Homo sapiens: one gene and its partner. The protein of the gene in region 1 interacts with the protein of each later gene in a biochemical or structural test. Each region holds a gene or a part of one and is shown on either strand. Other genes may lie near its edges. The genes, in order: ZP4 and ACR.

What was found.
Region 2: the proteins of ZP4 (region 1) and ACR form a complex in vitro, tested with the Homo sapiens proteins (one study listed by IntAct).

Annotation. Positions count from the first base shown.
Region 1 is NC_000001.11:237,887,896-237,895,033, forward strand, and holds the start of ZP4 (zona pellucida sperm-binding protein 4 preproprotein), read right to left. Parts: upstream 3,028-7,138; 5' UTR 2,741-3,027; coding exon 2,566-2,740; intron 2,282-2,565; coding exon 2,160-2,281; intron 2,075-2,159; coding exon 1,972-2,074; intron 616-1,971; coding exon 463-615; intron 1-462. UniProt on the Homo sapiens protein: Component of the zona pellucida, an extracellular matrix surrounding oocytes which mediates sperm binding, induction of the acrosome reaction and prevents post-fertilization polyspermy.
Region 2 is NC_000022.11:50,741,181-50,746,108, forward strand, and holds the end of ACR (acrosin precursor), read left to right. Parts: intron 1-2,880; coding exon 2,881-3,026; intron 3,027-3,472; coding exon 3,473-4,027; 3' UTR 4,028-4,159; downstream 4,160-4,928. UniProt on the Homo sapiens protein: Acrosin is the major protease of mammalian spermatozoa. It is a serine protease of trypsin-like cleavage specificity, it is synthesized in a zymogen form, proacrosin and stored in the acrosome.

The DNA of each region.
Region 1 (7,138 bases):
TTGGTAGAGAAGTAATTGCAGCCTTTGCCACAATGGCAAAAGCCGGGATTCCTCCTGTACCAACCTATACATACTCTGAGGTCAAGTTTATGTTAGAAAACCTCAGAGCAGGATTAGAGACAAGCAGAAAGCAACAGCCTTGAAGTGACTCTCCCTAAACAATCCAAGACCATCAGCCAAAGTCGCTATAAGTTTCTGTCAGTTAGAAGTTATCTGGCACTAGCAATTATCTGGCACATAGCCTTCAAGTCTGAGCGTTATTGACTTTATATCTGGATTCTGGGAGAATGGACAGTGGGAGTTGTAGAAGTCTGTTACATTGGGATCAAGTGTTCTTGGATGCATGGCTACATGGCAGCCTGCTATCACTTGATGTTTGCCTTCTGAGCAAACCCCTCTCTGGGTTTCATTGTAATTGCCACACTTCCTCAGCTGGTTTCAGAGGTGTGCTCACTTACTCACCAGTGTTTCCATAGTAGCAGGAATTCACCTCTTCAGAGCTATAACAACAGCCTAGCCCTTCACAGTCTCCTCGAGAGATGGGTGAAGGTGCACATGGCAGTCTGTCCCGTGCTGGGATGGAGTCACACCAGTCAGTATCTGGAGCATCTCGGGCTAGGTTTTGAAAAAGAGTAAGTCAGGTTAGATAATGGAAAAGTTAGTCTTGAATACCATTTTGATACAAGTCATTGACTTTGGATTCCTGTAGATATGTAGATGATTGAAATAGGTGTCTACTCCATATTGTAGATAGTATTGAGAGGTTACATGTTGTAGATTAAGTCTTGGGAGGTTGTCAACATTAAGTCACCTTGTAAGAGTGCCCTGCTATTAGTTTTTTAAAAACAAGAATGTCAACAAAATTGGTAGAAGCAGTTGGGGGGTTTCTTACTCCTTCCAGTAACAATCCTTCCTTCTGTTCTTTAGAGGCGTTTCTCAAGCCTTAGTTTGGATATGAGTTATCTGAAGATTGTTTTTGAGTTCAGGTCTGGTTCAGAACTGGGGTGGGGCCTATGATTCCTCATTTTATTAGTGCTGCCCATCCTGGCTATGTATTGGGAAGGAAGGCAGGTGAGAAGAGTGAATTTATAGTTTGAGTCTGTTCTGACTTTGAGGACGGGCTCTCAGTCAGGCGAGACTTTCTAAAGTTGAGTAGGCATCATACTTCCTGCTGTTTCCTTAGGGAAATGCTCAGATACCCCTCCAGCTTGTGGGATGGAAGACCTGGGTCCTAGTCTCAGTGCACATCTAGCTCTGTGGAGGTATTTTTCCAAGTTCCCTTGCTAGCTTCAGTTTTATTTCCTATCATTCTCCCCATGGGTGAAAAGCTCCTGGTTCTGGGAGAGTTCTTTGAATCCCAGCTCAGTCATTCACCAGTGATAGGCCCTTGGGAAAACTTCCTGGCAAGAGATAGGTTGTATTTTTTTTTTTTTTTTTTTTGAGACAGGGTTTCGCTCTTGTTGCCCAGGCTGTAGTGCAAGGGCACGATCTCAGCTCACCACAACCTCAGCCTCCCAGGTTCAAGCGATTCTCCTGCCTCAGCCTCCCGAGTAGCTGGGATTACAGGCATGTACCACCACACCCGGCTGATTGTGTGTTTTTAGTAGAGATGGGGTTTCTCCATGTTGGTCAGGCTGGACTCCAACTCCCGACCTGATCCACCTGCCTCAGCCTCCCAAAGTGCTGTGATTACAGGTGTGAGCCACTGTGCCTGGCCAGCAGTAGTATTTGCAGCACTATGTTAGGGTTAGGGAAGGTAACACCTGAAGTGCTTACCCACAGTGCCTTGGCATTGAGGAGTCTCAATTGGTAGTTATCCTAAGGATTGCCCATGGAGGTGAGAGTTGGGACATGATCCTTCCTTCATTAGTGTCAGGTGTCACTGCACAGAGCAGGTCAGAGAGGACCAAGAGTACTTTCACACCCCACCCCCACCACCCCCACAAGACCCTGAGAGCTTCCAGCCTTTACCTAGAAGATCCATAGGACACTTGAGCAGCTTCCTCTCTGTAACCACCTTGTGTTCAGCCGCGCCTGCTCCTTCAACTCCAACTGGCATGATGTAGTGGGAGTCCTGGAGAGACAGGCCCTTGGGGGTCAGCCTGGATGGTAGCATGAGGCGCTTCACACAGTCTCCCTGGCCATTGGGTCATACTCACCCACTCAGTGACATAGCAGCTGCTATAGGTTGCCTCCAACACCACGGAGCTGCCTGGACCTTTTCTTATCCAGGTGCCACAGTCGGAGTCATTCTGCAGCTCGTGCAGCAGCCCTTGGTTGTCTGGAGGGGTGGGGAAGAGGTGAGAAAACACAGCGGTCAGTCTCCAGTGCCAGAAAGGATAGTCAGCCTTGCCATTAGACCCCAAGGAGCAACTGTCAATAAGAGGAACAAGAGGGAAATCAGATTCAGATCAGATGTAGTTATAACTTAGACTATTTCTTTTGCAGAAAGATGCAACAGGGCTCAGAAGGTGAAAGTATCAATACGGGAAGATAGGGAGACATCTTAGGTAGTAGAGGAGACATATCATTGCTTGGCTAAGCAAGGCAAGTCATCAAACTTACCCCAAGCTATTAGTACAGGAGGAGACGTTGCCTCCTGGTTGAGGTTTACAGCAAACTGGAAGCTCCACGGCCCACAGTGGAGCACACTGGAATAATCTGGTGCCTCAGGCTTATGCTGGCCACTCACAGCAAGAGATAATGAAACACACAGCAAAACGCACCGCAGCAGCCACATAATGCTACCAGGAGTTCCTGCCGGCTGCAGACTCTCCGCCTCCTCTCCCAAGAGCCGAGGGTCTGCCTGCCCAGATTCCTTTATATACAGAAGTCAGGCTTGTTTTCAGCTGCACATCTTTGTGACACTCAGGTGGGATGCCTTCAGAAAGGGGAATTCCTCTAGCCTCATTTGCTTTGGGGCACAGTCTGCAGCTGCCTCACATTAAATACCACAATCCAGGCAGACTTCAGAGCCCAAGAAAAATGTAGTAACTTTTAGCTAACAGAAAGGAAGGAAAGAAAGCTTCCTCAGGGTTGCTCAACATAGCATTTGTCCCACCAGTTTATTGAACTTATTGACTTCAGAAGACCTCCCTCTAGAATTTTGCACATTTGGGTGTGAAACTACCATCTATGAACTATGGGGTCTGGGTACGTTACAAACTCTCTGAATCTTGGTTTTCTCATCTGTAAAATGGGAATGCTATCTCCTGGCAGTGGTGTGCTTGAGGATTAAGCAAGAGATTCTATGTCAGGTGCCTGGCACAGTGCTTGGCCAAGCAGTGAGTGCTCAGTCAACATTGTCGGGTGAGAGTTGGGGCCCTTGAGAAGCCTTGTCACCTTCTCCATCCATTCTAGAAAAGTTTCTGTACGATTAGAGCCTGTCTTGAAATTCTAGAAAAAAATCTAAACTTATTTCCTGAGAAAGGTTGATTTTGAACCCTTTCCTGGTCCTTAGAGGGAATCCTACCACAGCAATCTTTCAACAAATTCCAAAGTGGTTCATTGCCATAACTGTCCTACAGTGTTTCCCCACAGGATCTGGGGGAAATGTGGATTAGGCCATGAATTCCTCAAACTGGTTCTGCCTCTTACAGCTATTTGACAATTTTATCTTTCGGCTGTGTTTCAGGCATATTTCATAAAGATGTCAGGGTTTCTTGCTTGCTTTCTACATTTTTGTTTTCCACATAAACTACAAGTTATATACTTTGGTCACTCTTTAAGCTAGAGTGTCAGACCAGATTGTAGAGAAATTCTAAGAGATTTGGGGATAAATGGATACATTCCCCACTGGAGAGGCAAGAGCATGGAAACTTGTCTTCTGCAGTCTGCCACCAATATTCCCAAATTGTACCCTGATTGTATTTAGACTGATATTTTTCGGTTGACTAAAAATTGTAGTCAAAGCACTGAGAATGTGTAACTAGGTATCTCTAGTTCTCTTCAACTCATCACAGAGGACAAATAAGTATGTGTCTTCCTGGGAAAATTGGTGGCCCTTTTAACCACATGATGAAAAATGACATTGAAGGAAAGCTGGACTCTGCCCTCAAAGACAGATGTGGCTTCCCTGACACCGTCTACCTGGATTAGGTGCTCACCACTGGGTTATTACATGCCATTTACTCACAGGATTTGCCAGGTTGGATTGTAATGACCTCTTTCTTATTCAGTTTGCCACTAGAAGCACGTGAGGCCAGGGACTTTTTTATTTGTCACTGCATCCTGCGTGCCTTGGATGTATGTACTCAGTGTTCTCTGAGTAAAGACTGAATCAATGAATATGCTTTCATTAGTGGCCATGTCCTAGGGCTAACCCCCTTGAAAATGTAGTTTCCAAACCTCACCGGTACAAATTCATTTCCTTTATGATGAGCTCAAACTCATAACCCTTAGGTATTTTTCCTTCAAGTAAATATCATGTGATTGCACATGTAAGAAAGAATCTGAGGATTTGACTCATGCAAGATGTCTCAGGAGTTAAAAGGCCAGTCTCCTGACTAGACTTACTAATATTGCTTTATGCTGAGACCAGCTCAGTCGGGGAGACCCTAACCCAGGGATGCTAGAGGAATAAAGACACACACACACACACAAATATAGAGGTGTAGAGTGGGAAATCAGGGGTCTCACAGCCTTCAGAGCTGAGAGCCTCGAACAGAGATTTACCCACATATTTACTGACAGCAAGCCAGTGATAAGCATTGTTTCTATAGATTATAGATTAACTAAAAGTCTTCCTTATGGGAAACAAAGGGATGGGCTGAAATAAAGGGATGAGCTCTGGCTAGTTATCTGCAGCAGGAGCATGTCCTTAAGGCACAGATCACTCATGCTATTTGTGGTTTAAGAACACTTTTAAGCGGTTTTCCATCCTGGGTGGGTCTGGGGTTCCTTGCCCTTATTCCGGTAGACCCATAACCTTGCAGCGTGGGCATCATGGCCATCACGACCATCACGAACATGTCACAGTGCTGCAGAGATTTTGTTTATGGCCAGTTTTGGGGCCAGCTTATGGCCAGATTTTGGGGGGCCTGTTCCCAACAGCTTTATAAAGTGGTGAAAAGTCAAGGAGCGTAACTTCCTTTGCTCATACTTGGAGGCAATATAGTATAGTATATCATGTGAGTTTTGACAATGGGTGGACTTGGGTACAAATTCTGACTGTTACTCTGCAACCTCTGTCAATGTATTAACCTCTTTCTCTCAGTTACAGTTTTTATATCTGTAAAATAGGGATAATAACATGGACAGTATTATTACAACAGACGGTTAGATGAAATAATGTATGTACAATGCTTGTTGCATAATTGCTACATTGTCACTAACATCAACAGGACCAGCCTGGGAGATAAAGGTGAGATGGGTGGCAAATGGAAAGCAAATGCCAAGCAGTGCACTCATTGGATCTGCAGGGAGTCTGAGGAACAGCCTATACTCATGAGGCTGCATTCCCAAATGAGGTCCTGTGTTTACATAATGAAGTTGAAAAATCACACAAGCCTGGAACTATGTGGAGCTATCTTGAAGTCCACCTAGGATCACACCCATCTCTCTGATGCTGCAGAGGGTCAAAGATGGATGCCAAGATAATGCAGGCAGGTCTGGGGTTAGGTAATGTTATGCTCATTCCTCTGCTGAATCTTCCAAGAACATCATCATTTAATTTCGGGATGAGAAAATGCACTGATAATGTGTGATCCACCTCGAGGAGCCCCAGGCTTAACAGAAAAAACATCCTATCCACTATTATCACAACATGAATGCTCTGTCCTTTGAATGTGAAAGGGCAAATGCTGTTCTTTGTCTTATGTCAGAATCACCCAGTCATTTAAAAATTGTTTCAGAGCCATTACGAACAGATTATGAGGCATCCTAATGTGTACAGACTTATCAAAAGCCCCATAGTCATGGTAGTATTCATGCAACCCACATTTTATAGGCGGGCTTAAGGATTCCCCTTGTGTTCCTTACCAAAGTACTTGGGAGTCCTGCACTGAAGCTAAGCTGCCCATTCCTCATTCACTGAAGCTGCCCATTCCTCATTCAGTGATCTGGCCACTCAGGTCATGAGGGCAACCTGTGTGATTGGGGAAAGGCAAACGGTGATTTCCAAAAACCTTCTTCAATCTGGTCATATTTACATTTGAGTGTTTCATTTTAAACTGCAGAATAGGGACATCACCCCACAAGGTTTGGATAGCATGGAGCTGTAGTACAATGCTTTCTGGCCATTGAGTACAGACTCCTCATCTGACATTAACAGTGATTGCCCCGCTGTGACTGGAGCAGGGTCCTCCTAACTGGAGAGTGAAGTACCACTCAAACAAGGCCCCAGGAAGCCCACTTCAAGTGTGGAGAAGCAATAATCAAAATTATCCCTCAAATATGGAGGGATGATTAGACCATTGTTGTGTTAATCAGTAATTAGGGAGCAAGGATGGTGCATCCAGCTGCTCTCTGCATGTGGTGGAAATTAGGACACTTCTCTTCTGAAGGAAGATGTCAAACTTAATTTACTGTAAGTACTTACATGGTTTTCCTTTTCAACAAGCAAGAATGAAGTGTAATTCAGAGTCAGTTGCGATGGCTTCCATTACTGGGTCTCTTGTTTCAACGCCTCTTTTGTGTCCAAGGTACAAGACCTGTCTCTGAAGTGTCTCCTGTGCTGACTGCACAGCACCTGCTCTGTTCTGATGTCTCTCCCCTCCCTGCTCCACACCTTCCTTTGCCATGATGGGTGGAAAATTATCATTCCCTTTCACAGGCAGGAGGATACCCTACTGAATGGGTAGTCGGACTTTGAGAGGGATGTCAGTATGGTTGACCCTTGAACAATGTGGGGGCTAGGGGTGCCAACCCCGCATGCAGCCAAAAATCCATGTAGAGTTTTTTGGTCCCCCTCAAATGTAACTAATGTAATTGCCTGATGGGTTTGTCTTACTTGCTGCACAGGCAAGATCAATTCACTGAGACCCTGACATTCTGATGAGGAAAGAATATCATTGATGTGAGGCCAGCCACATGGGAGACAGTTATGACTCAAATCAGTCTCTGAAGGCTTGGAGGTTAGGGGGTCTTCAAGCATAGTTTGGTGGGCAGGGGACTAAGGAACAGCTGCTGTTGATTCATT
Region 2 (4,928 bases), on another chromosome or scaffold:
TCTTCCTTTAACTCTTATTTCCTTCTCTGAGGGCGTGGTCTAAGTTTCTGACAGGTTTGTCACCTCTCCTGTCCCTCAGGGAAGGGAGTCTCATCCCAGCTGTCCTTGTTCTCACTGGCCTCACTTGACACGTGGCCATCCCCTTCTGGCCTGGAGTGACAGCCTCTATTCCAGCTGCCGATACCCATGGCTCTGCCCTGGCCTCTGTCCAGCCCCCTAGCCTGCCATGCTCTGTCCCCTGTCTGATGATGTCCACAGCTCTTGGGGGTCCCTATGTTCCTGGGAGGCTGATCTTAGGGTCCCCACTGCCAACCGTTGCTGTCCTATTCTATTACTCAGACAGATTGTAGTGTCCTAGCTATATCTTGGATGCCATGCAAAACCTTTTTTGTTCTGGAATTCCCATAAACCTAATAGGATCACTCTGTTTCTGTTTGGGGTTTTTTTGTTTTTCATTTTTGCAAACACATCCTGTACCCATAAGCCCAAGTCTTAAAGAAACCCCCAGGCTCCAACTCCTGTGATCCCTTCAAACCTTCCATGTCTTACCACCTCCTTCAACTCATCTGCTTTGGGGCTGGAAGGGTATTGCTTGGGTATTGCTTCTTTCCCATTGGGTTTTGAGTCCCTGCAGACTTTTAAGCATTTGTTATTTAAAGCCCAGGTGTCGGCTGGGTGCAGTTGCTCATTCCTGTAATTTACCCAGCACTTTGGGAGGCCGAGGCAGGTGGATCACCTGAGGTCAGGAGTTTGAGACCAGCCTGGCCAACATGGTGAAACCCAATCTCTACTAAAAATATAAAACATTAGCAGGGTGTGGTGGTGGATGCCTGTTGTCCCAGCTACTCGGGAGGCTGAGGCAGGAGAATCACTTGAACCCGGGAGGTGAAGGTTGCAGTGAGCCAAGATCACGCCACTGCACTCCAGCCTGGGTAACAAGAGCGAAACTTCATCTCAAAAAAAACCCGCCAAGGTGTTGGGATTTAGAAAACCCTTTTCTGTTTGAGGACACCTGGCTCTTCACAATAAAACCCATGGCTTTCAAGACTATGGGCTCTGCCCTAGACTTAAAAAGTCATCTTGGCCGGGCGCGGTGGCTCACTCCTGTAATCCCAGCACTTTGGGAGGCCAAGGAGGGTGGATCACAAGGTCGTGAGATCGAGACCATCCTGGCTAACACGGTGAAACCTCATTTCTACTAAAAATACAGAAAATTAGCCGGGCATGGTGGCGGGCGCCTGTAGTCCCAGCTACTCGGGAGGCTGAGGCAGGAGAATGGCGTGAACCCAGGAGGCGGAGCTTGCAGTGAGCCGAGATGGCGCCACCGCACTCCAGCCTGGGCGACAGAGCAAGACTCCGTCTCAAAAAAAAAAAAAAAAAAAATCGTCTTAATGGCTAATAAGCCAGGATTGTTGTCATTGTTGTTTCAATGTCACCCCTACCCCAAGGGCAGTGCATGTACAAAACTCTCACTGCTGCTTGGATGGTAAGAAAAGGTGGGGGCTAAGGGGATTAAAAAACGGAAAGCCAGCGAGCACTCGTTCAGCAGCCGCTTACCAGACGCCTGCTGTGTGCCGAGCCCTATGCACGTCACTCGTGTGTCCCCTGTCTCCCGTCCTGGCCTGTGCAGCTATGTTCTGGGTCTGCCCCTACCTCAGTCTGCTCCCATCTGCTCTGCAGGTGACGTCCAGATCCACCCCCAGGGTTGTAGGTGCTGCTGCGGTGGGGGCCAGAGTGGCTGCTGCTGTTGGGGACCCTTCTGTCTGTGGGACCCCTTGAAAAGGAGCAACGCTGGCGCATGCGCCGTAGCATCGGGTCTTTCTAACCCAAAGGTCACGGTAGAGAGTCCAGCGCTTTCTTTCTTTTTTTGTTTGAGACGGAGTCTCGCTCTGTGGCCCGGGCTGGAGTGCAGTGGCGCCATCTCGGCTCACTGCAAGCTCCGCCTCCCGGGTTCACGCCATTCTCCTGCCTCAGCCTCCCGAGTAGCTGGGACTACAGGCGCCCGCCACCATGCCTGGCTAATTTTTTGTATTTTTAGTAGAGACGGGGTTTCACCGTGTTAGCCAGGATGGTCTCGAACTCCTGACCTCGTGATCCGCCCGCCTCGGCCTCCCAAAGTGCTGGGATGACAGGCGTGAGCCACCGCGCCCAGCCAAGTCCAGGGCTTTCAAGGAAGTCCGCATCGGGGTTGTTTCAACCGCCCCTGCCCCTGCCAGGTCTGCCCGTGTGTGGAGGCGCTGCCCCGAGCTTCCCCTGCGGTCTCCTCGGAACAGATATGCAGCATATGGGGAGGGACTTATTGACCCAGCTGCAGCAGATCCCGTCCGCAGCTGAGCCGAGGAGTTCTGAAGAGGGACAAGAAGCAGGGGGAGTGGCTTACAGCCAGACTGTGGGAGTGGACAGTGTGTCTCAGACTGGAGTCTGGAGAGGAGCAGTCCTGAGGCCAGGCTGCAGCCCCACCACCTCTCTACTGTGACCTGGGTGGGCGGTGCTCCAGCCTTCTGATCCAAAATGGGAATAACGGGACCATGTGACTCAGGGAGTGCTTGGTGCACACTAGGTGTTATTGGTAATACTGCAACTAACCTCCATAATCCATCGTTAATACGCACACCCACCCCCCATCCACCTGTCCACGGGCCTCCACCCTTCCTTCCTCTCTTCCTCTCTCCTCTGGCCTTGATTTGGATAACATTTCCCCACCTCCTCCCACCACCTCTAGTCTGCTCTTTCTGGTGTATAAGGAGGGGTCGGGGCATCGACTGGATGGGTCTGAGGTTTAACTGGAGCATCACAGAGGATGGGGTTCGGTGGGGCAAGGAGGCAGGGCTTTTGTCCGTGTCTCCCGTGATCACTGACCACCGAGTGGTCTGACTATAGCCCCCAGGCCATCATCTATACTGATGGAGGCACGTGTGGATCTCATCGACCTGGACTTGTGTAACTCGACCCAGTGGTACAATGGGCGCGTTCAGCCAACCAATGTGTGCGCGGGGTATCCTGTAGGCAAGATCGACACCTGCCAGGTAACCTTCCTTCTGGCTTCTGGGCCCCTGGGTCCCTCCAGGACTCTCCCGGCCCCTGAGAACATCCTCCTTTTGGATCCCCAAGCTCCACTATCTCCACTGCTCTGCCCAGGGCCCTTCTCTAGTGACTGCTTCCCCGGTCCCTTTTCTAGCACCTACTCTCACAGTGGGGATGAGCGGTGACAGCCACCGGCTGCCCCTGCCATGTGCCCCTGTGGACACGTGGGTTTGCTCATCTCACTGCAAGGAAAGCCCTGACAATTCACACCCTCCTCACATCCCAAATGAAGCCCCTGACACCCCCTCAAACTTTACTACAACCACTTGTGTTTACAGCAGCAGGAGACCATGTCACTGTGGAAATTGTCCTCCCAGAGCCTTCCGACCCCTCTGGGCAGGGGAAGAGTGGCTCAGGCAGATAGTGACCTCTGTGTCCTTCTGGACAGGGAGACAGCGGCGGGCCTCTCATGTGCAAAGACAGCAAGGAAAGCGCCTATGTGGTCGTGGGAATCACAAGCTGGGGGGTAGGCTGTGCCCGTGCCAAGCGCCCCGGAATCTACACGGCCACCTGGCCCTATCTGAACTGGATCGCCTCCAAGATTGGTTCTAACGCTTTGCGTATGATTCAATCGGCCACCCCTCCACCTCCCACCACTCGACCGCCCCCGATTCGACCCCCCTTCTCCCACCCTATCTCTGCTCACCTTCCTTGGTATTTCCAACCGCCCCCTCGACCACTTCCACCCCGACCACCGGCAGCCCAGCCCCGACCCCCACCTTCACCCCCGCCCCCACCCCCACCTCCAGCCTCACCTTTACCCCCACCCCCACCCCCACCCCCACCTACACCCTCATCTACCACAAAACTTCCCCAAGGACTTTCTTTTGCCAAGCGCCTACAGCAGCTCATAGAGGTCTTGAAGGGGAAGACCTATTCCGACGGAAAGAACCATTATGACATGGAGACCACAGAGCTCCCAGAACTGACCTCGACCTCCTGATCTGACCTGGTTCTCAACAGACCCAGTGAGCCCTTCACTCCTGAGAAAAAGGAAAGATGAAATAAATAAATAAACATATATATATAGATATACACACACACATATCTGTATGTATACATGCATATACATCAAGAGATGCTTTCTGGACTTCTTCCTATCCCCCCTCCCAACCCAAATTTCCCCTATAAAATCTACCCTCTCTCCTTCACCCTACAATAAGGCGGAATTGCTTGTACATTAGTGCCAATCGTGTTTTTTAAAATCTTGATTTTTAATGCTGGAATAAGGTGACCTGGGGCCGTAGACCGGGGATGGTCTTTATTTCACACTTAGGGAGAAACGACAAATGGTGAAAATAAAAGAGCCATCTCTGCATGTGCAAGTCAAAGGGGGTGGACCCCCAAAGCAGCAGCTGTGAGTGAGCTGACGGGGAAAGAGGGGGTGTGGGTCCAAGTCTTCTATCAGGAGGCTGGTGGTGTTGACACCCACAGAGAAGATTCTGCATGAAGGTTGAACTCCCCAGAACACAAAGGCTAAGGAGGCCACTAGGCCACCAAAACAAGTGTCTACTACCAAACACAATTTTGCTTGTGGCTTGTTAGTGTCCAGTTGACACCAACAAGCCTGTTCATTACTTGCCTGTAGTTAAATCTTATTAGTTCCTGGATTTGAGCAAATTAAAAAATGTATTCTTTGCTAGAGCTTTCTAGGAATTGCAATGGGGAATACTTTTTGGATGCCCCCGAGTGAGCTTTGAGTGGCTTCCTTAGGATTTGGGGTTATTTATTTTAAGACCTTCCATTGCAAGGAACAGAAACCAGTTAGAGCCATTTAAGTGATAAGGATGCAAAGATGTCACACAGAACCAATAGGAAAGGCCAGAAGCAGACACCAAGAATGG